Linked DNA regions of Homo sapiens: region 1 is linked to region 2. Evidence: fine-mapped QTL for protein levels in blood plasma. Region 2 holds a variant in brackets. A gene starts in the other region. All regions are shown on their reverse strands. Region 1 holds the start of FGFBP1 (fibroblast growth factor binding protein 1). Region 2 has its middle 7.0 kb from the start of CEACAM16-AS1.

The links. PIP is the chance, under the fine-mapping model, that this variant and not a neighbour inherited with it causes the effect. Protein levels are from antibody-based Olink assays in UK Biobank. Linkage for the fine-mapping came from a reference panel and not from the study's own genotypes, which makes the PIPs less certain.
Region 1: it holds the start of FGFBP1, and the variant in region 2 is fine-mapped to the plasma level of the FGFBP1 protein (UK Biobank, PIP above 0.99).

Annotation. Positions count from the first base shown.
Region 1 is chr4:15,931,630-15,944,397 of GRCh38, reverse strand. It overlaps FGFBP1 (fibroblast growth factor binding protein 1), which reads left to right and starts at 5,658. Exons shown (of 3, transcript NM_005130.5): 1 at 5,658-5,711; 2 at 5,927-6,147; 3 at 7,746-8,821. The coding sequence starts at 7,766. The coding sequence ends at 8,470.
Region 2 is chr19:44,725,804-44,738,571 of GRCh38, reverse strand. No RefSeq gene overlaps it. Among named protein-coding and RNA genes, the nearest start is that of CEACAM16-AS1, 7.0 kb to the right of the region's middle. RefSeq lists an enhancer at 943-1,444. The variant T/C (reference allele first, on the strand shown) is at 8,454.

The sequences.
Region 1 (12,768 bases), not on the chromosome of region 2:
GAAAATCATTCTACAAAAAAGTAAATAAATAAAAATTTAAAAAAACAATATGCACTCATATGTTCATTGTGGTAATATTCACAACAGCAAAAACATGGAATCAACCTGGATGCCCATCAAAGGTGAATTGACAAAAGAAAATGTGGTACATATACATTATGGGATACTATCTATGCAGCCACGAAAAATAATGAATTGTGTCCTTTGCAGTAACATGGATGCAGCTGGAGGCTATTATCCTAAACAAATTAATACAGGAATAGAAAACCAAATACTGCATGTTCTCACTTATAAGAGAAGGAGCTAGACCGAGCACAGTGGCTCACGACTATAATCCCAACACTTTGGGAGGCCGAGGCAGGCGGATCATGAGGTCCGGAGTTCGAGAGCAGCCTGGCCACCATGGTGAAACCCCGTGTCTACTAAAAATAAAAAAATTAGCCAGGCATGGTGGCAGGTGCCTGTAATCCCAGCTGCTCGGAAGGCTGAGGCAGGAGAACTGCTTGAAGCCAGAAGGTGGAGGTTGCAGTGAGCCAAGATCGTGCCACTGCACTCTAGCCTGGGTGACAGAGCAAGACTTTGTCTCGGAAAGAAAAAAAAAAGAGAAGGAGCTAAATATTAGGTAAGCATGGACATAAAGATGGCAAAAATAGGGCTGGAGACTACTAGAGTGGGGAGAAATGGAGGGGGGCAAGGTTAGAAAAACTACCTACTGGGTACTATGCTCACTACCTGAGTGATAAGATCATTTGTACAGCAAACCTCAGCGACATGCAATTTACCCATGTAACAAATCTACACATGTACCCTCTGAACCTAAAATAAAAGTTAAGAAATGTGTTAATATTATGTGGTTAATAACAACATTCTTTCTAAAGTAAATAAACTTAATAGGTTTTCACCTTGCAATCATACCCAATACTATAGAATCCACACTCTGCTATCTCTTCATTTTCTAAAGAAATAAAACTTTCATTGTCCTGAACAGGAATCCTGAAATCTCATGATGAATGAGCACTTTAAATTTGGAATGCAAATATTCTTTTTTTTTTTGTCTCACTTTGTCGCCCAGGCTGGAGTGCAGTGGCACATCTCGGCTCACTGCAAGCTCCGCCTCCTGGGTTCACGCCATTCTCCTGCCTCGGCCTCCTGAGCAGCTGGGACTACAGGCACCCGCCACCATGCCTAGCTAATTTTTGTGTGTGTGTGTGTGTTTTTAGTAGAGACAGGGTTTCACCATGTTAGCCAGGATGGTCTCGATCTCCTGACCTCATGATCCGCCTGCCCTGGCCTCCCAGAATGCAAATATTCTTGAGTAGGTCTAAGATTAATGCTTTTTGCCAGATGAATTAGATTTTACTGATGTTTGCTTAGCCCAATTTCCTTATTTTCTGATAATAAATGTATTTTAATGCACATTATTTGCCCAACAAATTAATATTGCTTTAGTGCAGCAGCTCAGCATTTGCAATGTCTGTTTGTAAAGTAACGTTTGAAGGAAGGGTTGATTTTTGACAACTTTGGCCTGGCAATAAGTTTGGCACAGTTAAGACTTACCTCAGAACCAAATTGCACCCATTATATGAATAATCTCTGGTGACTGCATAAGTAGGGCCAGGCCTCTAGGTCAAGAAGCTATGTGGTAGTAACAGGCATGAGAGTAAAATCAGCTTTTGAACTTCAAATCCCCAGCTGGTGACCAGACATGCATTCAATTACCAGCCTTAGCCAGTGTGTTTTTACCAATTGTGTTCAGACTTCCTTTCACAATCCCAAAGAAAGTATTCATCATTTAAGTTTTGTGTGATCATGAGAAGAATAACATGATCCCAATCTAACCAGAACATGCCAGACAATTTCCAAATTAAGGACATTCTCAAAACACCTAACCAATTCTTCTGCAAACTGCCATAGTCATCAAAAACAAGCAACATCTGAGAAACAGCCATAGCCAAGAAGAACCCAAAAAGTCACGATCACTAAATGCAACCTGGTGTCATGTTGGGATCCTGGACAGAAAAAGAACATTAGGAGCTGAAAATTTAATTCTACACCAAACCTGCACATGCATGTTTATAGCAGCTCTATTCATCACTGTCAAAATTTAGAGGCATCCAAAATGTCCTAGATGAATGAACAAATGAACTCGGGTACATCCAATCAATGGAATTTTAGTAGTAGGTGAATGAATAAAGGGACTTGGATATATCCAATCTTTGGAATTTTATCAGCACTTAAGAGAAATGTGCTATCAAGTTATGAAAAACATAGAGAAACCTTAAGTGCATATTACTAGGTAAAAAAGTCAATATAAAAGGTTACATATTGTGTGATTCCAACTATTTGAAATTCTTAAAAAGATAAAACTGAGGAGACAGCAAAAGGATGAGCATTGCCTGGGGTTGTAGGGGATGGAGTGGTAAGTAGGCAGAACACAGAGAATTTTTAGGGCAGCTAAACTATTCTGTATGATACCATAGTGGTGGGTACCGTCATTATACCTTTCTTAGTTAATTGATATTATGCATGTCATTATACATTTCTCAAAACCCAAAGAATGTACAGCACTTAGAGTGAACCTAATGGAAATGATGGACATTGGGTGATAATGACATGTTAATGTAGGTTTATTACTTACAGCAAATGTACTACCCTGGTTCATGATGTTGAAGGTAGGGGAGACTGTGCCTGCGTGTGGGGAGGGGTATATGGGACTTTTGATACTTTCCACTCAATTGTGCTATGAGCATAAAACTACTCTAAAAAATAAAGTCTGTCAATAATAATAATAATAATAATAAAAACTAGAACAACAGGTAAATCCTAAGCAAGTCTGAATAAAGTATGGACTTCAATTGACAATAATGTATCAATGTTTGTCAGTTGTGACAAACGTACCATAGTAATGTAACAGGTAAATAGGGAACCCAGGTGAGAATTGGAATGATAACTATCTTTGCAATTCTCTGTAAACCTAAAATTATTCTAAAACTTTAAAAAAAAATTTAAAGGGAAGGTATGAAGGGGCAAAGAGAGGAGAATTCCACAATTTATCAGTGTATGCGTACACTGCCTCATTTGTGTTTAGAATGATAGCAGCGGCCTCCAGATAATTCTTCTCTAATTGTGTGTCAGACACTGTGCTTAGTCCCCCTAAGCCTTGCCTCCACATCTGTCCCATGAGGACCTGGGCCGACTTTCCTCCTGGGGTTCTTGTGCAATGGGCCTTTATGTACTCATCCCCAAGAATTACAGAGCCCCTCAGTGCTGGGAGCATGGGGAGGTGGAGGGGCCTGAAGTTACTGGAACCTGCTATGCACTGCGTGGCTGGGGCTCCATGTCCTCTGCAGTCTCCCCAGAGCCACTGGAAAAGGACATCGTTTCCTTAGTTCATGGAGATACGAAGAAAGCTTGGGAAACAGCCTTAGCACAGTGCCTGGCACGCTGTAAGCTCATTGGAGGAAGTGTGCCATTTCTCCCCGTGGACATTCTTAAAGATGTGGGTGGCATGCAGGGCGTCAGGAGCCAATGACACCAACAGAGAGGGGCTCGCATTGGAGCCTGGCCTTGAAGGATGAGGCGGTGTGTGCCAGGCAGAGAAGGAAGGGAAGGGGATCCCAAGTGCAGGGAACAGCAGAGGCAAAGGCAGGAAGTGGGCGCATGCATGGAGTATCTGCAAATGGTGGGACAGGGTTTCAGTGTGGCCAGATTGCAGTGTGTGTGTGCATGTGTGTGTGTGTCTGTCTCTGTGTGTGTGTCAGTGTCACTGTGTGTGATTCTGTGTGTGTGTGCCTATGAGTATGTGTGTGAATGTGTCTAGGTGTCAGTATGTGTGTGTCTCTGTGTGTCTATGAGTGTGGTGTCTTTGAGTGTGTTTGTGTGTGTTTGAGTGTGTCAGTGTGTGTTTGTGTGTGTCTTTGTATGTGTGTCAGTGTGTATGTGTATTTATGTGTCTGCGTGTGAGTACCTGGAAATGAGGTTGGAAGGGCAGGATGAGCCAAGGAGGTGACTGCCCCACAGCCTGCTCTGATGCTGTGCTGCTGAGTCTAGAAGGGAAAGAGCAAAGCAGACGCTGGGATGGGAGTCACAGGAAGGGGAAGGGCCACAAGGAGCCAGTGGGGAATGTGCAGTGTTACCTGGCAAAGCTCAGAGAAGCACTTCCCAGAAAGACCCCGGAGTCCACATGTTTCCTTGTAAATATGTTTTGTGTTCCAACTGCAATCTGCCTCCAGAAAGAATCTGCCTGCCTCCCAAGGATCAAGTAGAATTTTCCATTTTGTAGGAGACTCCCCTTGTTGAGCAAAGCAGCTTTGCCTTGCCTATGTCCAAATAATCCTCCAAAATACCGCATGAGAGAGCCTGTTCGTGGAGGTCAGGGCCTCAGCGGGGTGTTTGTGAGGATAGTGAGGACGGACCCCTGGGTGAGGCAATTTTAGGAGAGAGGCACACAGCTTCAGAAATGGCTTCTTCCAACAGATTCATGCAGAGACTGAGCCTCTGAGTAAATTGGTCAACATCTATAGCTATGACCACGGAATTCTCAAACAGGTGGATCGTTCATAAAATCCAAACACAGTTACAAGTTTTGGCCTGCATAGTGTTGAGCTACAGCTTTATTTTTAGAAAATTTTAATTAGCTGCCAACCAATTTCATATAAACACATCTGGATTTGGGGATGTCATTTTAAAAATCAGACAGTGTGACAATACTGAGCCTAATCCCTGCATTTTCTCAGTCAATTGGAGATGAGTGTTGACCTCTATGGAGGCAGAGACTCTCTAGTTTGCCACAGTCCCCATCACTCCCTATTGCCTTATCTCAAACCCAAAAGTCAGTTGCCATTTAATATCACACTAAACAATAGTTTTCTTATGGCTGAATTAAGGAAAAGTGAACAATTTCTTCTTCTGAAAATCTATGAAAGGTGAGGTGATAATATATAATGAGGGCCACATCTTCCCTGTAGAAGTGAGTTTCTTTTTAAATGCTGCATATGTAAATAACAAATGTCTGTTTTCAAAGTATACAACTTAAGACCCTGTCATGAGGCAAAACGATTCTGCTCCACTTTATGTTAACAGCTTAGCCCAGTAAAAATTTAGTATGCAGCTATAAAGGAGACGTTGTTATTGTCAGCACACTGCAAATGGATGATGGGAGAGGCTAAGTGGTTTGGGCATAGCACTCAGCTAAACACATGCTGTGGCCAGGATTCCACCTGGGTCATTCTGGTGTGGGACTGTGCCTGTAGCAGGCAGGGCAGCCTGAGCTCTCTGAATGAGACCTGAAGGTAAGTATTTACAACAGTAATCTTATATTAAAAATTCCCTCTTTACCAGCCTCTCAGAGCCTGGTAGAATTCCCTGATAAAAAAGAGGGAATTTTTAATGTAAATTTCCCTGCCTCTAGAATTAGGGTATCCTCTGCTTATGTAGTAACTTCAGATGGAAAAAGGAACTCAGACACTACGAAAACTTCGGCAACTTCAGTCACCCATTCAACAAAGATTTATTGAGAGTGGCAGGCAGGAAGAGATCAGACCATGGATGTAGAGAATCTCACTTTTAATTTTGAGATGTTCCTTTTCCTGCCTCTGTGAACTTGGACAAGCTCTTACATATCTCCAGAACCAATTCCTGCTTTTGTAAAAGGGGAGGAATCATTGCACTCCCTACTAGAGCGGATGTGATGAGGGAAAAGGAGAACTCAGGTAAAATGGGCTCAGTAGTTTGGCAGCTCGGATCATGTCATTATAGTTATTTTACTCCTCCATAGACATCACTGCTGGGGTCCTCTCCCCATCAAGGAGGGTCACTGTGAGGCTGAGTTGTCCTCCTATCCTGGCCACAGGGTGGACAGGGAAGGGCCTAGAGGAAGCGTTTGATGGCATGCAGGTAACCCCCCTTTTCACTGGATTACATCCAGCACTTTCCCTGCAGGAACCGGCTCCCTCGGAGGGGCGTGGCTGGGAGGAGCTGTGAGTAACGTGCCACAGTGTTGTAAAAACCCAGTGAGTGTTATAAAAACCCAGTCAGCCTGGCTCCTGTTGAATAGTCTACCCCCCTTGCACTCTACCTGACACAGCTGCAGCCTGCAATTCACTCGCACTGCCTGGGATTGCACTGGATCCGTGTGCTCAGAACAAGGTAAGAGCCTCGCTCCTTTAACAGCTTTATTACCTGCTGCCACTTCTCACTCCACCAAGGGCCTGGAGTTCCTTGGGCCTGCATTCCATCATGGGCAGGTGGGGGCTGAGCCCCAGGGCCGTGAGAAATGACTGGGTGTTTTTCTGGCATATCCAGTCTCCTCTTCACCATTTATTGCTGTTCTCTGCCCTTTTGTGATTGTCTTTCTCCTTCTTAACCCTAGAAGATGGCCAACTTCTAGGGTAGAAATCAGATCAGGACCATTTCCTGGGTCTGCCTCTTTTTATAAAAAATTCTGTGTTTTGTTTTAAATGGAGCACAAATAATACAAATCATCTTATCATTATGTGTTATATGAAACTAAATTGTCATTGTTCATAGTTGTTTTTCTTATTCTTTGGCAATGTTTTTAAAGGGCAGAGTAAATGTGAAAAGCAAAAAGTGATCAACCAGGGGTGACAGAAAGGAATAAGGAGATTGATCTGGCTACCCATACCAGCTTTGAACTTGCCCACTATGAGATCCTGAGCAATTTACTTACCTGTCTGAGCCTTAAGAGTCAGAGCTGTCACCTGGGATGACATATTAATAGCTACCTGGAAGAGCTCTTGTGTGGATTTCACAAGGTGGGAATCAAACCCTAGACCAGTACTTAGCACACAGGAGGTGTCATATAGAAACTGACTTCTCTTCTTCTGTTAAGCATGGGTTTTTATTGTACACATGATCAGATTCATGCAGTTCAGTGTGACGTTGGTGTTCATCCTATTGATTCAATGATTTCTCATGATCCTTGTCTTCGATCTTGTAGTGTGAACTATCTGGTTGAAATTCACCTCTCTCCACCCTGATTCACTTTGCCCAGGCAAATCAGACAACCACCCCACCTCACACCTTTCCTTAAACTCTTACTTCCCCACAAAAAGCTCCCCCACCCCCACAACCCCACCCACCCCACCCAAACCCCAGGCATGTTCAACTCTGGGTCAACATCACCTTTCATGATGCTTACCACATCCTTTCTCATTTTGGGCATCTGTCATGTCTTTTCTCATTTTGGGCATCTGTGTCCATATGGAGTCATGAGATAGAAATCCAGCCCTTTGGAGCTGAAAGTTTGGAGCAGTAACTTGTTTCATATCAGAAACAGAGATGACGGGATAGATTCCCTGATCAATGCTATTTAAATTCTCCCAAAGAGTGGTCTCTAAGCTCTTTCAAATCTGAGGCTTTCTCAATCATGGTGATTTCTTCAACACCTAGTCTGGTGGGGGGCATATAGTAGGTGCTCAGTAAATGCTTGTTGAATGAGTGAATGAAAGAGTGAGGAGTGAGCAGATGCAGGAGTTAATGAGTGAATAAATGATAAATGAGAGTTCGTGAGGCTCCAAAGAGTGGTACTTTTGTGACACTCAAGACTCAAGTCAAGTGGAAATGTGAGTAGACAGGCTGTTTGTCTAGTGACTCCAGGAGCCAGAAGCGTTCTTGGTCTACTCTGAAATCATGTAGGCACCTGTCAGGGTAGGGGGAGGCCAGCGTGTAGTCCTGCACAGCTGAACTGCTGCCTGCCACTGACTCACTTGCCTTTTGTCAAACAGGTGAACGCCCAGCTGCAGCCATGAAGATCTGTAGCCTCACCCTGCTCTCCTTCCTCCTACTGGCTGCTCAGGTGCTCCTGGTGGAGGGGAAAAAAAAAGTGAAGAATGGACTTCACAGCAAAGTGGTCTCAGAACAAAAGGACACTCTGGGCAACACCCAGATTAAGCAGAAAAGCAGGCCCGGGAACAAAGGCAAGTTTGTCACCAAAGACCAAGCCAACTGCAGATGGGCTGCTACTGAGCAGGAGGAGGGCATCTCTCTCAAGGTTGAGTGCACTCAATTGGACCATGAATTTTCCTGTGTCTTTGCTGGCAATCCAACCTCATGCCTAAAGCTCAAGGATGAGAGAGTCTATTGGAAACAAGTTGCCCGGAATCTGCGCTCACAGAAAGACATCTGTAGATATTCCAAGACAGCTGTGAAAACCAGAGTGTGCAGAAAGGATTTTCCAGAATCCAGTCTTAAGCTAGTCAGCTCCACTCTATTTGGGAACACAAAGCCCAGGAAGGAGAAAACAGAGATGTCCCCCAGGGAGCACATCAAAGGCAAAGAGACCACCCCCTCTAGCCTAGCAGTGACCCAGACCATGGCCACCAAAGCTCCCGAGTGTGTGGAGGACCCAGATATGGCAAACCAGAGGAAGACTGCCCTGGAGTTCTGTGGAGAGACTTGGAGCTCTCTCTGCACATTCTTCCTCAGCATAGTGCAGGACACGTCATGCTAATGAGGTCAAAAGAGAACGGGTTCCCTTAAGAGATGTCATGTCGTAAGTCCCTCTGTATACTTTAAAGCTCTCTACAGTCCCCCCAAAATATGAACTTTTGTGCTTAGTGAGTGCAACGAAATATTTAAACAAGTTTTGTATTTTTTGCTTTTGTGTTTTGGAATTTGCCTTATTTTTCTTGGATGCGATGTTCAGAGGCTGTTTCCTGCAGCATGTATTTCCATGGCCCACACAGCTATGTGTTTGAGCAGCGAAGAGTCTTTGAGCTGAATGAGCCAGAGTGATAATTTCAGTGCAACGAACTTTCTGCTGAATTAATGGTAATAAAACTCTGGGTGTTTTTCAGAAATACATTCAAACATTGCTTGGTTTTCTCTGTGTCTGGTCCCAAATAAACTCATTAAGTAGTCCCCATATATCAATGGAAAAACAATCTAAACAGGAACTTCCAGTTCCCCACCCTTCGCAAGTTATCTCTTTCTGGAATCCTTCTTTATAATTGTATCCATTGGTCAGTGGTGTTTGGTGTTTATTGAAGTATAATAACTAGGATCCCTGTTTTCAGGTGGGACACCTGGTATATAATGTGATTAAATCATTTGTCAGGGACTCATAGATGGTAAGAGGGCCGGTAGGATTGGAACCCAGGAGCTCTGACAGCTGAGTCTACAGGGTTGAGGAACCTCCGCTACTGATTCATGTCAGAGCTGCCCATTCCCTCCCCCACCCGAAAGACCCCGGCCTTGCAAAGCTCAATTCTGGAGAAGAAATGAGTTTCATTCCTTCATTCTTCATTCTTGGAGAAGAAAGGCCTAGTTAAGTACAGTGGCCCAAGATAAGGGCTATAAAGGAAGGGGGAGAGGGCTACAAGGAAAACCAGAGAGAGAAGGCAGAAACTGCTGTAAGATCTGGGCTTGAGTGTAACAGGGGAGGGAATAGTGGAGCTGGATTTTGGAAAGAGTATCTGTGGGAATAAAATGGGGCAAAGTGGAGGCACTTTAGGCATTTGATAACATGAATGAAAGTGAATAGATGGGAAGTTTCAGATTCTGGGAGAGGTCAGGTGTCTGGGATCGGATGGGATGCAGCGATGAGACTGCCATTATTCATTTATATGTTAGTATGAAGGATCTGAAAGTTGTATTTTAAGAGTGGGGGAGAGAGGATGAACTGTCTCCAATGCCTTGTCACAATTCCACAACCAGGGAAAGGAGGAGCAGAAGCTGACGAAAGCACTGTTCTTTAGCATGTCTGATGGTGGCAGGGAGGAATGGCAGGTGGGGGGGAAGGAAAGCCTTTTACATTCACCAACCTACTGGGATGCACACTGAGGACGTCAGAGGCCAATCCACAGTGCCACAGCCTCAGAGTGACATTTGGATGTCATCATGATCATCAATAAAAAGAGCACTTATCTCTTACCTGCTATGAGCAAGCACTGTTCCAAGTTTTCCCATGGATAGTGGATTTATTCATTCACTCACTCACTCAACACATAACTTACAGAGCACTGACTCACTCCAGGTTGTGTTCCAGGTGCCAGAGATACAGCAATGGATGTACAAGAGACGAGTGTTCTGCCCTCATGGAACAGTGGGAAAAGTGATGATGAGCTCATGATACATGATACACGATAGAGAAGACTATTAAAGCAAGGGAAGGGGATAAAGTGATCGAGGGTAATGAGCTTTAGATGGGGTGGAGAGGAAAAGCCTCTCTGTGGTGGTTACTTTTGAGCTTAGACCTAAAAAGAGGAATCTCTTTTTAGCCAGGGAACTCTCCTGGGTAAGCATGTTCCAAACAGAGGGACCAGTCAGAACATATGCCCTGAAATCATGGTTAATCTATTTATTCAATCCTATTTGTCCCTTCTTTTTGCCAGGAACTCTACCATAGGTGAGAAATAGCAATGAAGGAAAGAGAAAAAAGAAATCCCTGTCTTCATGGCACTTCCATTCCCATGACAGGGATCATGCTTGGCATGTTAGAGAAATGTCCAAGAGGGTGGGGTCATTGTAGGATGGGGCCTGGGGCCTGACCTGTGAACCTTACCACCAACTCCAAGAGCACTGAAGCAACATTCCAGACCCTCCCCAAGCTCCTTCAAGCCACAGCAAAGAAAGGATATTTTCCCTTAAGGTCTACACAGGTTCTCAGCCCTGTGGCCCCCTCCTCCACATATGTAACATAGCCCTGAGATAGAAAAAGAATAATAATCTCCTCCAGGAGTCACTCAACAGTCATCAGGTTTGTTATGGGTTGGCAAGAACATTGGAGAACAGACCCAAAACCTCCTTAAACTCCTCCAGGCCCGCAGTTGCTGGTTTGAGTTCACTCCTGGCCTCTGGTCACTGGCAGAACTGGAAGGAGTTTTGCCTCTACCATGGAAGAGTGACCTGGATCTCAGCACAAAGTTTGCTTCTGCTGATAGATAACCAGTCTCAGGGCCAATTATTTAATCTTCTGAGCAGAAATGAGCTCATCTTGACAATGGAATCATGAAACCCACCCATTATTAAGGGTCCTGAAACACTGACATTGGTCAATATCTCTGAATCTCTTAATACTATGCCAATAGTTAGATAATAGTTGTTCAACACCACTGACCACTTAAAGTCCACAGCAGGAGACTGAATTGTAGAGGGAAGTCAAAATTCCCAGTGAAAACTCTCTAACTGTGGAAGGTTTTTGGTTTTGTTTATTTGTGTCTGTAGTACAAGTGGCCAGGAGCCACCATTATGGATCACCCACTGTGTGCCAGTGGTTTTGCTCCATTGTCTCGTGAATCCCCCACAACTCCATCTGGTAGGAGTCTCACCTTCATTTTCTAGATGAGGAAAGTGAGGCTGAGAGAAGCCGAGGAACCTTCCCAGGGTTATGAAGTTATTAAATGGCAGAGCCTATAATGGGAATCCCTGGCCTGGAGGTCCCAAGCCCTTTCTGCCTCTGAAGTGCATGATTTTCTTCACTCAGTGATAGAAGAGTGACATTTATGGTCTCTGGATGTAGGCCAAACTTGACAATGAACAATATCCATCAGTCCATTCCACATATATATCTTCTTCCTGTCCTTACAGAGAGAAAGTTCTAGAAGTGAACACTTCCATTGCACTCAGCCTCCGATCATAGTCATATGCTGAGGGGATGTTTTAAGAACACAGTAAAAAGAAATATGTAAATAGAGGCTCCACAGATTTACATTGACTTTCTTTTTTTACCTTTTTTCTTTTTCTTTTCCTCTTTTTTTTTTGAGACGGAGTTTCGCTCTCGTCACCCAGGCTGGAGTGCAGTGGCATGATCTCAGCTCACTGCAACCTCTGCCTCCCAGGTTCAATCGATTCTCCTCTCTCAGCCTCCCGAATAGCTGGGATTACAGGCACCTGCCACCACGCGCAGCTAATTTTTGTATTTTTAGTAGAGACAGGGTTTCAACATGTTGGCCAGGCTGGTCTTTAACTCTTGACCTCAGGTGATCCACCCGTATTGGCCTCCCAGAGTGCTGGGATTACAGGCATGAGCCACCGTGCCCGGCTACATTGACTTCTATTCACCTTAGTGCTACATATTTTCTCCCTGAGAACTTTCTGGATATGAAGTAGAGAAGCCAACTTTCTCTGTGTGTGTGGTCTTTAAGATATGACTTGTTTTGACAGCAAAAGATGGAAATTTTTCGGTAGGTAAGATGTGCTGAAGATTGGCATGTCTGTACCCCCTAAAGCCACTCAGAAGTGGGAATGTCTCTCTTTCCTTATAAAACCACATCTCGGCAGAAAGAGGGTCTCTTCCTTCGGGCACCCCAGCTCTGTGTGGTAACTCACAGTCACACCAGTGCTGACTTGAATCTCTGGAATCCAACAGATCTCACCTAGCCTCCTTCCCCAGCCTCTCTCCGAAGTTGTTTTTGGCAGAAATGGCAGGAATGCCAAAGTGTTTGGGGCTGAAAGCTTTCAAGCAGATATGACACCAGCCATCCTCTGATGTGTTGGTTTGCATAATGTGCTGTGTACAATGCTCACCATTTCATGCAGCAATATCCAAGAAAATCTTTTTGAGACTCCCTCTGAAGAATGGGAGGGATGGGGAGAAGATTCTAGAAGAAGGCTGGCTTGGGACCTGGAGCGCTTGAGGTGAGCTCTCCAGGGGGAGTTTCCATAAAGTAGTTGAAAATGTGTGATATGGTTTGGCTGTGTCCCCACCCAAATCTTATCTTGAATTGTAGCTCCCATAATTCCCACACATCATGAGAGGGACCCAGTGGGAGGTAATTGAATCATGAGGGGCAGGTGTTTCCCATGCTG
Region 2 (12,768 bases):
ATCGGTTCCGTGAAGATGCATGGGGCATCTGGGTTCAGGACTAGATCTAAAAGGAAAAAAAAATGGGGTGGGGCAGCATGACTCCCTCCTCTGTCTAGATTCTCAATTGAGGGGAGCAATTTTGCCCCTCCTCCCCAGAAGACATTTGGATGAATGTCAGACTAGACTAGAGCTTCCTGAAGATAACAGGCATGCCTCCACCCTCATAGGAAACCTCCCTGTGGGTGGGTTTGGGTCCTGCCTCCTCCATCAGACTAGAGCTCACTACGCTGTAAATCTTGAATCCTTCTTGGGACTAGGAGTGCTGTCCGAGTAAAATTAAGTTTTGTCCATCAAATTAGACTAGGAAATATAAATTTCCCCAGGAGGGAGCTGGTATGTGCCTCCTCCATCAGATTAGTGGTTCCTTCTTGACTTGAGTTGGGGGAAATCATGCCACCCCTATCAGCCTAGCCACTCCCTAAGTAGGAGCCCTCCCATTGAATTAGAAGCCCCTCTTCTCAAGCCCACCCTGGCAGGGTGGAGCATGGTGCCTATCCAGGAGGGACAGTCCCTTTCCTGAAACTCCAGCCTTTTCCCTGGAAGTCGGTGCCTCCCCTACTCAAGGCCACAACCTGCCCTGTGGCCACCAGCATTTAAAAATACAGATGCAAAAGTCCCTCAGGCTCCTGGGAAAGCCGAGGTCACACTGGGCCCTTCCTCATTTGAGCCGGGACATGGCACACTCACCTCCCTTGTTTCCAACCGTCATCCCAGTGTCCCAGTCGGGGCCACCCATACCCTCCAACACATTCCCAGGATACTGAGGATGGGGCAGGGCTGTCTCTACTGCCTCATCCCTGTGGAGTCAGGTGGTTGCAAGTCAGGAGCAAATCCCAACACGGCAGCCTCTCAGCCAAGCAATCCTGGGCAGGCTCAATTTCCACATCCAAAAAGAATGGGACTGGCCCAGGATTGTTGAGGTTGCATCTCCTCCCAGGGAGAGCCAGGCTCTGGGGTGGCTGGTGGGAAGAGAAATAGATGACCACTCTTACTGGCGTCACGCTCTGCAGGAGGTGGGGTGGGGGCGGGGAGGCGCTGGCTTGTGGCCTCTACTCTGAACATCACCTACCCTTGAACTTGTCACTTCAGCCCACTGTGGTCACACAGAGTCACAGCACATTTGCTCACTTCTGGGAAAATCAAATTGTATTTGCTGTTTCAGATCCCAAATTCTCCTGTGGGTTCCTGGTGCACCGTGCACCAGGTCTCTGTGCCAGGGCTCCATGCCAGGGCTCAGAACTTTTGCCCACCGCCCCCTGGAGAGCCACGTCATTTGAGGAACAGAGATTTGGAATCGTGGGATTAAAAAAAAATCCCTGAAAATTATGAAATATAACATGGGGAGAATTGCGTACAATTAAAATATATTGTTCTGTTTCAGAGACTTTTGTAAAGGAAACAGTTAGGTTAAGAAAGTGTTGCTGGGCCAGGCGCGGTGGCTCATGCCTGTAATCCTAGCACTGGAAGGCCGAGGGGGCGGATCACCTGAGGTTAGGAGTTCGAGAGCAGCCTGGGCAACATGGCAAAACCCCATCTCTACTAAAAATACAAAAATTAGTGGGGCATGGTGGTGCACGCCTTGTGGTCCCAGACACTCTGGAGGCTGGGAGAATAGCTGAACCGAGGAGGCGGAGGTTGCAGTGAGCAATATTGCTATTGCGCCAATGCACGCGAGCCTGGGTGACAGAGTAAGACTCTGTCTCAAAAAAAAAAAAAGAGAAAAAAAGAGAAATAGTGTTGCTAGTTCCTCAGAAGCTCCTTCATGCCTCTTCATGCCTCACAGCTCCCTCCCTCCTGGAAAGGTGACCTGTATTTTGTCTTTTATGGTATAATTTTCTTGCTTTTCTTTATATTTTTGCTACCTACGACTACTACGATTTTGAATTTTTAATAAAGGAAATCTTTTTTTTTTTTTAGATGGGGTCTCGCTTTGTCATCCAGGCTGGAGTGCAGTGGGTGTGACCATAGCTCTCTGGAGCCTTGAACTCCTGGCCTCAGCCAATCTTCTGGCCTCAGCCTCCCGACTAGCTGGGACCCCAGGTGCATTGCTACCATGCTTAGCTAATTTTTTTTTTTTTGAGACAGAGTTTTCCTATTGTCGCCCAGGCTGGGGTGCAATGGTGCGATCTCGGCTCACTGCAACCTCCGCCTCCTGGGTTCAAGCGATTTTCCTGCCTCAACCTCCTGAGTAGCTGGGACTACAGGCATGCGCCACCACGCCCGGCTAATTTTGTATTTTTAGCAGAGACGGGGTTTCACCATGTTGGTCAGGCTGGTCTCGAACTCCTGACCTCAGGTGATCCGCCTGGCTCAGCCTCTCAAAGTGTTGGGATTACGGGCGTGAGCCACCATGCCTGTCCTAAAGGGAATCTTATTGTACAACCTCTTGGATCTGGCTTCTTTGACTCAATTTTATGTCTGTGAATTTCATTCATATTCTTTTCTGTTTTTTCTTTTTTTTTTTTTTTTTGAGCTAAAGTTTAAAGTTTCGATCTTTTTGCCCGGGCTGGAATGCAACGGCGCAATCTTGGCTCACTGCAACCTCTGCCTTCTGAGTTCAAGTGATTTTCCTGCCTCAGCCTCCTGAGTACGGTTACAAGTGTGCACCACCACACCTGGCTAATTTTGTATTTTTAGTAGAGATGGGGTTTCACCATGTTGGCCAGGCTGGTCTCAAACTCCTGTCCTCAGGTGATCCATACCCCTTAGCCTCCCAAAGTGCTGGGATTACAGGTGTGAGCCACCTTGCCTGGCTTTTCATTCATATCCTTGAATCTATTGGAGTGTGTTTATTTTTTCATTGCTGTATACTATTCTCTTGCATGGATATAGCACAATTTATTTTATTTTATTTTTTTTGAGACTGAGTCTTGCTCTGTCACCTAGGCTAGAGTGCAGTGGCATGATCCTGGCTCACTGCAATCTCTGCCTTCTGGGTTCAAGCGAGTCTCTTGCCTCAGCCTCCAGAGTAGCTGGGATTACAGGCATGTGCCACCACGCCCAGCTAATTTTTGTATTTTTAGTAGAGATGGGGTTTCACCATGTTGGCCAGGCTGGTCCTGAACTCCTGACCTCAAGTGATCCACCTGCCTCAACCTCCCAAAGTTTTGGGATTACAGGCTTGAGCCACTGCGCTCGGCTGTATAGCACAATTTTTGAATCTATTATTTGTTGGTGGGCAGAAGGTTGGTTTCCACTTTCTGACTGTTTTGGCCAATACTGCTCATGCTCATGAGCGTGCATTTTTCTGCATTCTCCAGGACTAGAATTGTTAGGCTGCAGGGTGTCCCCTGTAGAAGACATGGCCAGACACTTTTCCCACGTGGTTATGCCAATTCTCACTCCCATCTTCAATGTCCGCTGTGAGTTCTCCTTGCCCCACATCTTTATCAGTACTGGATCTACCAGATTTAAAAATATGAGTCATCCTGCTGTGTGTATGTGTGGATTGGAATCTCAGGGTGGTTCTAATTTGCATTTCCTGGATCAATAATGAGATTCAGCACCTTTTCCTATATACATTGTTCACTTGAATCCAAGCATAAGAGAATCTTAAGGACAAAGAATTATAGACCCTTACAATCTTAGGTGCAAAGAATTCTAGGCTGGGCACGGTGGCTCATGCCTGTAATCCTAGCACTTTGGGAGGCTGAAACAGGAGGATCACTTGAGCCCAGGAATTTGGGACCAGCCTGGACAACAAAGTGAGACCCTGCCTGTGGTCCCAGCTACTTAAGAGACCGAGGTGGGAGAATTTCTTGAGCTTGGGAGATTGAGGCTGTAGTGAGCTATGATCATGCCGCTGCACTCCAGCCTGGGCAACACAGTGAGACCCTGTCTCAAAAAGAAGAAGGAGAAGGAGAAGGGGAAGGGGAAGGGGAAGGGGAAGGGGAAGGGGAAGGAGAAGGAGAAGAGGAGGAGGAGGAGGGAGGAAGAGGAAGAGGAAGGAGAAGGAGAGGAATTCTAGAATCCTAGATTTTTAGGAACAAGGGATTCCAGAACCCTATGCCTCAGTTTCCCCATTTGGATAATGGGGATAATAGAAGTCTGTAACTCATCATGTAGGTAATGTTATATGTGTACACCTGGCATGAAACTTGGCACACAGTGAGTGCTCAGTAAATGTGATTTCTGTCATGGCAAAAATTTTATACATTTTGTTCTCCCTTGTATCATTAGGACCTAGGGCAGAATAGAGGCCCAGTAAGTATTTACTGAATGAATGAATCTTAGTATCAAAGGATCAAGTAAACCTGCAGTTACAGAACTTTAGGAGCAAAAATGGGTAGAATTTAAGAAATTAGGCCAGGCACGGTGGCTCACACCTATAATCCCAGCACTTTGGGAGGCCAAGGTGGGCGGATCACCTGAGGTCAGGAGTTCAAGACCAGCCTGACCAACATGGAGAAATTCCATCTCTACTAAAAATACAAAATTAGCTCGGCATGGTGGTGCATGGCTGTCATCCCAGCTACTCGGGAGGCTGAGGCAGGAGAATCACTTGAACCCAGGAGGAGGAAGTTGCATTGGGCTGAGATTGCACCATTGCACTCCAGCCTTGGCAACAAGAGCAAAACTCTGTCTCAAAAATAAATAAATAAATAAATAAAATAAAAATAAAAATTAAGAATGATCGAAGTCTTGGATAAAGAAAAATGTGGTATGTATACACCGTGGAATACTATGCAGCCATGAAAAGGAATAAGATCATGTGCTTTGCAGGGATACAGATGGAGCTGGAAGCCATTTATCCTCAGCAAACTAACGCAGGAACAGAAAACCAAACACCACGTGTTCTCACTTATAAGTGGGAGCTGAATGATGAGAACACATGGACACAGGAAGGGGAACAACACAAACTGAGGCCTGTTGGGATGGGGAGGGGTGCAGAGGGAGGGAGAGCATTAGGAAGAATAGCTAATGCATGACGGGCTTCATACCTAGGCGATGGGTTGATGGGTGCAGCAAACCACCGTGGCACATTTTTACTATGTAACAAACCTGCACATCCTGCACATATACCCTGGAACTTGAAAAAAAAAGAAGAATGATCAGAGTCTTAAGAACTAAAGAGAGATAAAAATGCATCCTTGGCAAACTTAAGATTCACTATTTATTTATTTATTTATTTATTTATTTATTTATTTTTATTGAGATGGAGTCTCACTCTGTCACCCAGGCTGGAGTGTAGTGGTGCGGTCTTGGCTTATGCCAACCTCTGTCCCCCAGGTGCAAGCGATTCTCATGCCTCAGCCTCCCGAGTAGCTGGGACTACAGGTGCACGCTAGCTAATTTTTTTGTGTTTTTTAATAGAGACAGGGTTTCGTCCTGTTGGCCAGGCTGTTCTTGAACTCCTGACCTCAGGTGATCCGTCCACCTTAGCCTCCCAAAGTGCTGGGATTACAGGCATGAGTCACTACGCACGGCCAGATTCACTATCTTAAATTTATATTTATTATTAATTATTATTATTATTTTTAGATATGGGGTCTTGCTCTGTCACCCAGGCTGGAGTGCAGTGATGTGATCATAGCTCACTACAGCTCCAAACAGGAGGCTCAAGTGATCCACCTGCCTGGGCCTCCCAAAGCACTGGGACTACAGGCAGGCACCACCTTGCCTGCCCTTTATCTTAAACTTTTAGAAACAAGGAAGCTGCCCGGCCAATGCCGTCTAGCTCAGAGTGAGAACAGAGAAGAGAAAGGAGCGGGCGCCCAGGTCTTCTCACCCTCCCTGTGTCCCCTCCCCTGGGTGGCTCTTATAGCCACTTCTCATTTCCATGGCCTTTCCTCAGCCTCCCCACCTCCTCCTGCCTGGTCCTCCCTTTGCACAGGATGGAACCTGAGGAAGCTGCTCCTTCCTGAGCCCCATCATCGGGAGAAAGTCCAGGATCCTGCCGCAGAGGACCCACACCAGCTACCGTCTTCCTTCAGCCTTATCCCCCGGCTCTGTCCCACCCACACCCCTTTCTGCCTCTTAGCCAAGGCCTCTCTCGCACCATCCTCCTTCCATACATACCCCTTTCACTTCAACGTCAAAACTATACCTCTTTCTTGGAGATCCAAACCAGGTCACACAGTAAGTGCTCAATAAACACATCAGGCCCCAGCTCTGACAGCCTTTCCTCCAGGAAGCCCTCCCTGATTTCTCTTTCTAGTCTGAGTCAGGAGCCCCCTCTGGGCCCCCCTGACCATGCCAGCCCCAACATTCTGGGATGCGACTGTCTGGGGACAGGCTAGTCTTCCCCATGTGTGAGCCTGTGAGGGCAGGCCTGGGGCTGTCACTGCTGTGTGTATCCAGCACTGCCCCAAACAGCAGAGACCTCTGGGCACGGGGCTGTCAAGCCCATCTGACTGTTCACAAGGCTTGCTTACAATGCTCTTAATTGTGTGCCCTCGATGCCATTTCTCTGGGATCCCAGGGATGGCTCCACTCACTTTTCCAGGTCAGCAAAGGAGTGCCCGATGGTTCAAAGGGATGCAGGTGAGGCCCTGACAGTGCTCAGCCCACCACCTGCCCTCCGGAGACATAGGAGCCATTGTCAGCTGCTCAGGTCTCTGTCTCCAGTTCCCCTCTAAAAGCTCATAAAGCCCCTCTGTTTCACTTGTAAACGTTTCTTGCATGAATCCACAGTGAGACCTGAGACCTCAGCACCTGCCCTCAGTGATCATTCCCTCCTTCCCAACTCCCTCATCATTTACCCAGGCACAGAGAAGTTAGGAGCTTTGTCTAAGGTCACACAGCCAATAAGGGGGAAGAGGAGCTAAATGTGTGTGTGTGTGTGTGTGTGTGTGTGTGTTTTGAGACGGGGTCTCACTCTGTCACCCAGGCTGGAGTGCAGTGGTGCATTCACGACTCACTGCAGCCTCCACCTCCCGGGGCTCAGGTGATCCTTCCCCCTCAGCCTCCTGAGTAGCTGGGACTACAAGCATGTGCCACCATGCCCTGCTAGTTTTTGCATTTTTTTTTTTTTTTTTTTGTAGAGACAGGGTCTTGCCAGGAAGCCCAGACTGGTCTTGAACTCCCGGGCTCCAGTGATCCTCCTGCCTCAGCCTCCCAAAGTGCTGGGATTACAGTCCTGAACCACTGCACCTGGCCAGGAGTTTAGATTTTAAAAATCAACTGTACTGAGGTATAATTTACATGCAATAAAATACACCTGTTTCAAATGTGTGTGTTTGGCGGGGCATGGTGGCGCATGCCTATAATCCCAGCTACTTGGGAGGCTGAGGCACTTGAATCCAGGAGGTGGAGATTGCAGTGAGCTGTGATCTTGCCACCGAACTCCTGCCTGGGTGACAGAGCGAGACTCTCTCAAAAATAAATCAATTAAATTAATTAAAATTAAATTAAAGAAGGAGTATGCTAGATGAGTTCTGATAAACATGTACAATCATTTAATCATATCCTGATCAAGATATAGAACATTTCTAGTGCCCGGAAAAGGTCCACTGTGCCCTCCTTGCAGTCATCTCCTCCCCTTGTCCCCAGACACTGGCAGCCACTAATCTGCTTTTTCTTTTCTTTTTTTTTTTTTGAGATGGAGTCTCACTCTATTGCCAGGCTGGAGTGCAGTGGCACGGTCTCGGCTCACTGCAACCTCTGCCTCCCTGGTTCAAGTGATTCTCCTGCCTCAGCCTCCCTAGTAGCTGGGACTACAGGCGCCCGCCACCATGCCTGGCTAATTTTTGAATTTTTAGTAGAGACGGGGTTTCACCATGTTGGCCAGGATGGTCTCGATCTATTGACCTTGTGATCTGCCCGCCTCGGCCTCCCAAAGTGCTGGGATTACAGGCGTGAGCCACCGCGCCCGGCCTCTTTTCTTTTCTTTTTCTTTTTCTTTTTTCTTTTTTTTTTTTTTGAGACATTTTGCTCTGTCACCCAGGCTGGAGTGCAGGGGCGCGATCTCTGCTTGCTGCAGCCTCTGCCTCCCGGGTTCAAGTGATTCTTCTGCCTCAGCCTCCCCAGTAGCTGGGATTACAGGCAGGCACCACCATGTCCGGCTAATTTTTGTATTTTTAGTAGAGACGAGGTTTCACCATGTTGGCCAGGCTGGTCTTGAATTCCTGACCTCAAGTGATCCACCCACCTCAGCCTCCCAAAGTTCTGGGATTACAGGCATGAGCCACCACACTCAGCTATATCTGCCTTTTTTTTTTTTTTTTGAGATGGGGTCTTGCTCTGTCACCCAGGCTGGAGTGCAGTGGCACGATCTCGGCTTACTGCAACCTCCACCTCCCGGGTTCCAGCGATTCTCCTGCCTTGGCCTCCTGAGTAGCTGGTATTACAGGTGCCTGCCACCACGCCCGGCTAATTTTTGTATTTTTAGTAGAGGTGGGGTTTCACCATGTTGCCCAGGCTGGTCTCAAACTCCTGACCTCAAGTGATCCACCTGCCTCAGCCTCCCAAAG[T/C]ACTGGGATTACAGGTGTGAGCCGCCACACCCAGCTGCTTTTTATCCCTATAAATTTGCTTTTCCAGGATGACATGTAAATGGGATTACAGAGTATGTAGTCCTTAAAAAAAAATCATTGACAAATTTACCTACAGTAAAATTCACTCTTTTCATCATACATTTCTTTTCTTTCTTTCTTTCTTTCTTTTTTTTTTTGAGGAATGTTCTCACTCTGTCACCCAGGCTGGAGTGCAGCGGTGCGATCACCACTCACTGCAGCCTCAACCTTTCAGGCTCTAGCGATCGTCCCGCCTCAGCTTCCTCATTAGCTGGAACTACAAGTGCACGCCACCAAGCCCAGCTAATTTTTGTATTTATGGTAGAGATGGGGTCTCACTATGTTGCCCAGGCTGGTCTTCAACTCCTGGCCTCTTGCTTTGGCCTCTCGAAGTGCCTGTGGGGCATGCAGTTCTTAAAGCTTTGACAGGCTCATGTGGCTGTGTAGTCACCACCAGAATCAAAATATGGATATGTCCCACCACCCCTAAAACCCTTCATCTGCCCTTTTGGGGTCACGCCCATCCCCCACCCCACCCCTGGCAACCACAGGTCTGTTTTCTGTCCCTCTAGTTTTGCCTTTTTCAGAGTGTCTTGTAAATGGAGTAATGTAGTTATTATCATTATCATCATCATCATCATCACCATCATCATCAATATTTTTATAGAGATGGGGTCTCACCATGTTGCCCAGGCTGGTCTCAAACTCCTGGGCTCAAGCAATTCTCTCACCTTGGCCTCCCAAAGTGCTGGGATTACAGGCGTGAGCCACTGCACTCGGCTGAACACTGTAATTTTTGAGCATAGCTTCTTTCACTCAATATAACACAGTTGAGGTCCATCCACGTTGTGTGTATCAATAGCAGTTAGTCTTCACTGCTGAGTGATATTCCATTGTGTGGATGGACCACAGCTCGCTTATCCACATACAAGCTGAAGGACATTTGGGTTGTTTACAGTTGTTGGCAATTATGAACAGAGCTGCTGTGAGTGTGTGTGCATACAGTTTTTTTGTGTGAAAATAGGTTTTCATTTCTCTCGGGTCAATACCGAGGAATAAAATTGTTGGATCCTATGGGAAGTGTGTATTTAACCTTGCGGGAAGTTGGCAAACCATTTTCCAAAGTGGCTGCTCGGGGCTTGCACGCCCACCAGCAGCCTGTGGGAGTTCTGGCTGTAGAGCTACGAGGTGAATCCGGGTCTGAGAGATGACACTGAGGTCTTAGGCACCACGCCACACCACTCCTGAAATATAATAACAATTGCGGCAAGAGCTCTCGTCTGTCCACAAGTCGACACTGTGCATGCAATTATTAAAAAAAAAAAAAAAAAAAAGAAGGTGCTGATGCGGTGTGATTTTCCAGATGTATTGCTGTATTGCTAGGGGAAAATGCAGGCCACAGCAAGACTGTGCACCATTTGCAAAGCGGCCCCCGCCTGTAATCCCAGCACTTTGCAAGGGCAAGGTGGATGGATCACTTGAGCCCAGGAGTTCGAGATCAGCCTGGGCAACGTGGTAAAACCCCGTCTCTACCAAAAATACAAAAATTAGCTGGGCATGGTGGTGCGTGCTTATGGCCCCAGCTACTAGGGCGGCTGAGGTGGGAGGATCATTTGAGTCCAGGATGTGGAAGCAGCAGTGAGCTATGCTGGCACCACTGTACTCCAGCCTGGGTGACAGAGTGAGACCCTGTCTCAAAACAAAACAAAACAAAAAAACGGAAACTGGGAGGTGAGAACAGGACTGGGGAGGGAGGGGCAGAGTCGTGGTGGGGAAGTGACAGCTCACTGCCATTTGGTCCTTTTTGAATTTTGGAACTTGTGAACACCTTACCTTTTCAAAACACACACACAATTCATTCACTCTGCTAACAGGTTTTCCAGGCCCTGCCCTGGTGTTGAACAACTAAGATTCCTGCCCTTGGGGAGCCACAGACTCGTCCATCCATCCAGGAGACAGTCAACAAGACAAGGAAAATACAGCCAATGGTATGTATTTGCTATGGAGAAAAATAAAACTGGTGAGGGAATGAGGGAGATGGAGCATAGGAAGTGGAAGCTGTTGTTTAAATCTGGTGGCCAAGGGAGGCCCTCCAAGGAATGACGTTTGGGGCTAAGACTTGAGTGAGGGGAGGGAATGAACCATGTGGACATCTGGGGGAAGAGTATTCTAGGCAGAGGGAACAGCAAGTGCCAAGGCCCAGAGGTGGGTCGGAACAGCTGTTGGAGGCCAGTGTAGCTGGAGCAGGATGAGCTGGGGGAGAGTGGGAGGATGGGGAGAGGGGAAGGGTGGCAAGGAGATGGCTCAGGATCTTATGAGCCACTGTAGGGACATAGGCTTTTACTCAGAGGGAGATGGGAGCCATGGAGGGTTCTGGGCAGGGGAGGGATAATCTGACTTCATTTTTTATTTTTTTTCGAGATGGAGTCTCGCTCTGTCGCCCAGGCTGGAGTGTAGTGATGCCATCTGGGCTCACTGCAACCTCCGCCTCCCAGGTTCAAGCGATTCTCCTGCCTCAGCCTCCTGAGTAGCTGGAATTACAGGCATGTGCCACCAGGCCCAGCTAATTTTTATATTTTTAAAATAGAGACAGGGTTTCACCACGTTGGTCAGGTACCATGTTGGCCAACTCCTGACCTCAGGTACTCTATCTGCCTCGGCCTCCCAAAGTGCTGGAATTACAGGCATGAGCCACCATGCCCAGGCCAGGTTTTAATTTAATTTAATTTGTTATTATTATTACTGTTTAGAGACAGGGTCTCACTGTGTTGCCCAGGCTGGAGTACAGTGGTGCCATCTTGGCTTACTATAGCCTCGACCTCCTGGGCTCAAGCGATCCTCCCGCCTCAGCCTTCTGATGACTTAGGTGTTAACAGGATCCCTGTGGCTGCATGTGGGGGAAAGACAGGTCCTTGTGGAGGTGCAGCAAGGACCCAGGCAGGGAGTCCCATGAGGAGGTGACTGCATGGTCCGGGCCTTCAGTGATGGTGGCTGGACCAGAGTGGGAACTTTTTTTTTTTTTTGAGACAGAGTCTTGCACTGTCACCCAGGCTGGAGTGCAGTCGCATGATCTTGGCTCACTGCAGCCTCCACCTCCCGGATTCAAGCGATTCTCATGCCTCAGCCTCCTGAGTAGCTGGGATTACAGGCGCATGCCACCACACCCAGCTAAGTTTTGTATTTTTTGTAGAGACGGGTTTTCACCATGTTGCCCAGGCTGGTCTCGAACTCCTGGGCTCAAGTGATCTGCCTGCCTTGGCCTCTCAGAGTGCTGGGATTACAGGCATAAGCCACCTTGCCCAGCCACCATTTTTTTTTTTTTTTTTTGAGGTTGAGTCTCTCTGTGTCGCCCAGGCTGGAGTACAGTGGCGCAATCTCGGCTCACTGCAACCTCTGCCTCTGGGGTTCAATCGGTTCTCGTGACCTCAGGTGATCCACTTACCTCAGCCTCCCAGAGTGCTGGGAAATACAGGTGTAGGCCACCGCGCCCGGCCCTACATCTTTACTTCTTTTGGTCGTGGGGGCTTTTGGAGAGGTACAGGGAACCAGGAGACGGAGGACAGAGAGGACCCAGGGGACCGGGCCTGGCCTGTTTGAGCTGAGACCTGAAGAGCATGGGGAAGTGTTTGAAGGAGGTGAACAAAAGGCTTTATTAGAAAACCAGAAAGGAGGCTGGGCGCGGTGGTGCATACCTGTAGTCCAAGCATTTTGGGAGGCTGAGGCGGGAGGATCGCTTGAGCCCAGGAGTTTAAGACCAGCCTGGGCAATGAGTGAGACCCTATCGCTAAAAAAAAAATTTAAAAATTTACCCAGGTGTGGTGGCATGTGCCTGTAGTCTCAGCTACTCAGGAGACTGAGGTGGGAGGATTGCTTGAGCCCAGGAGGTTGAGGCTGCAGTGAGCTATGATGGCACCACTGCATTCCAGCCTGGGGCCAGAGCAAGACCCTGTCTTAAAAAAAAAAAAAAAAAAAGAAAAAGAAAAGAAAAGAAAGAAAAAGAAAAAAAAATACAAGCAGTGAGTGGTCAGGCTGTGGCTGTGGCACAGCACTTGGCTTTCTCCTGGGGGCACTGGGGAGCCATGGCAGATTCTGACCAGGGGTCAGGGTTGGGTTTCCAAGGACGCCTCTGGGTGTGGTGCGGGCAGGGAGACCAGCTGTGCAGCAAGACACCAGGTGGCCTGGGTTAGGAGGTGGGTCAAAGAGGGAGGGGTGAAGGTTACCAATCATAGATTTAGGAGGCAATTTTCTTGGAAGGAAAGGGTGGGGTGCATGCTGG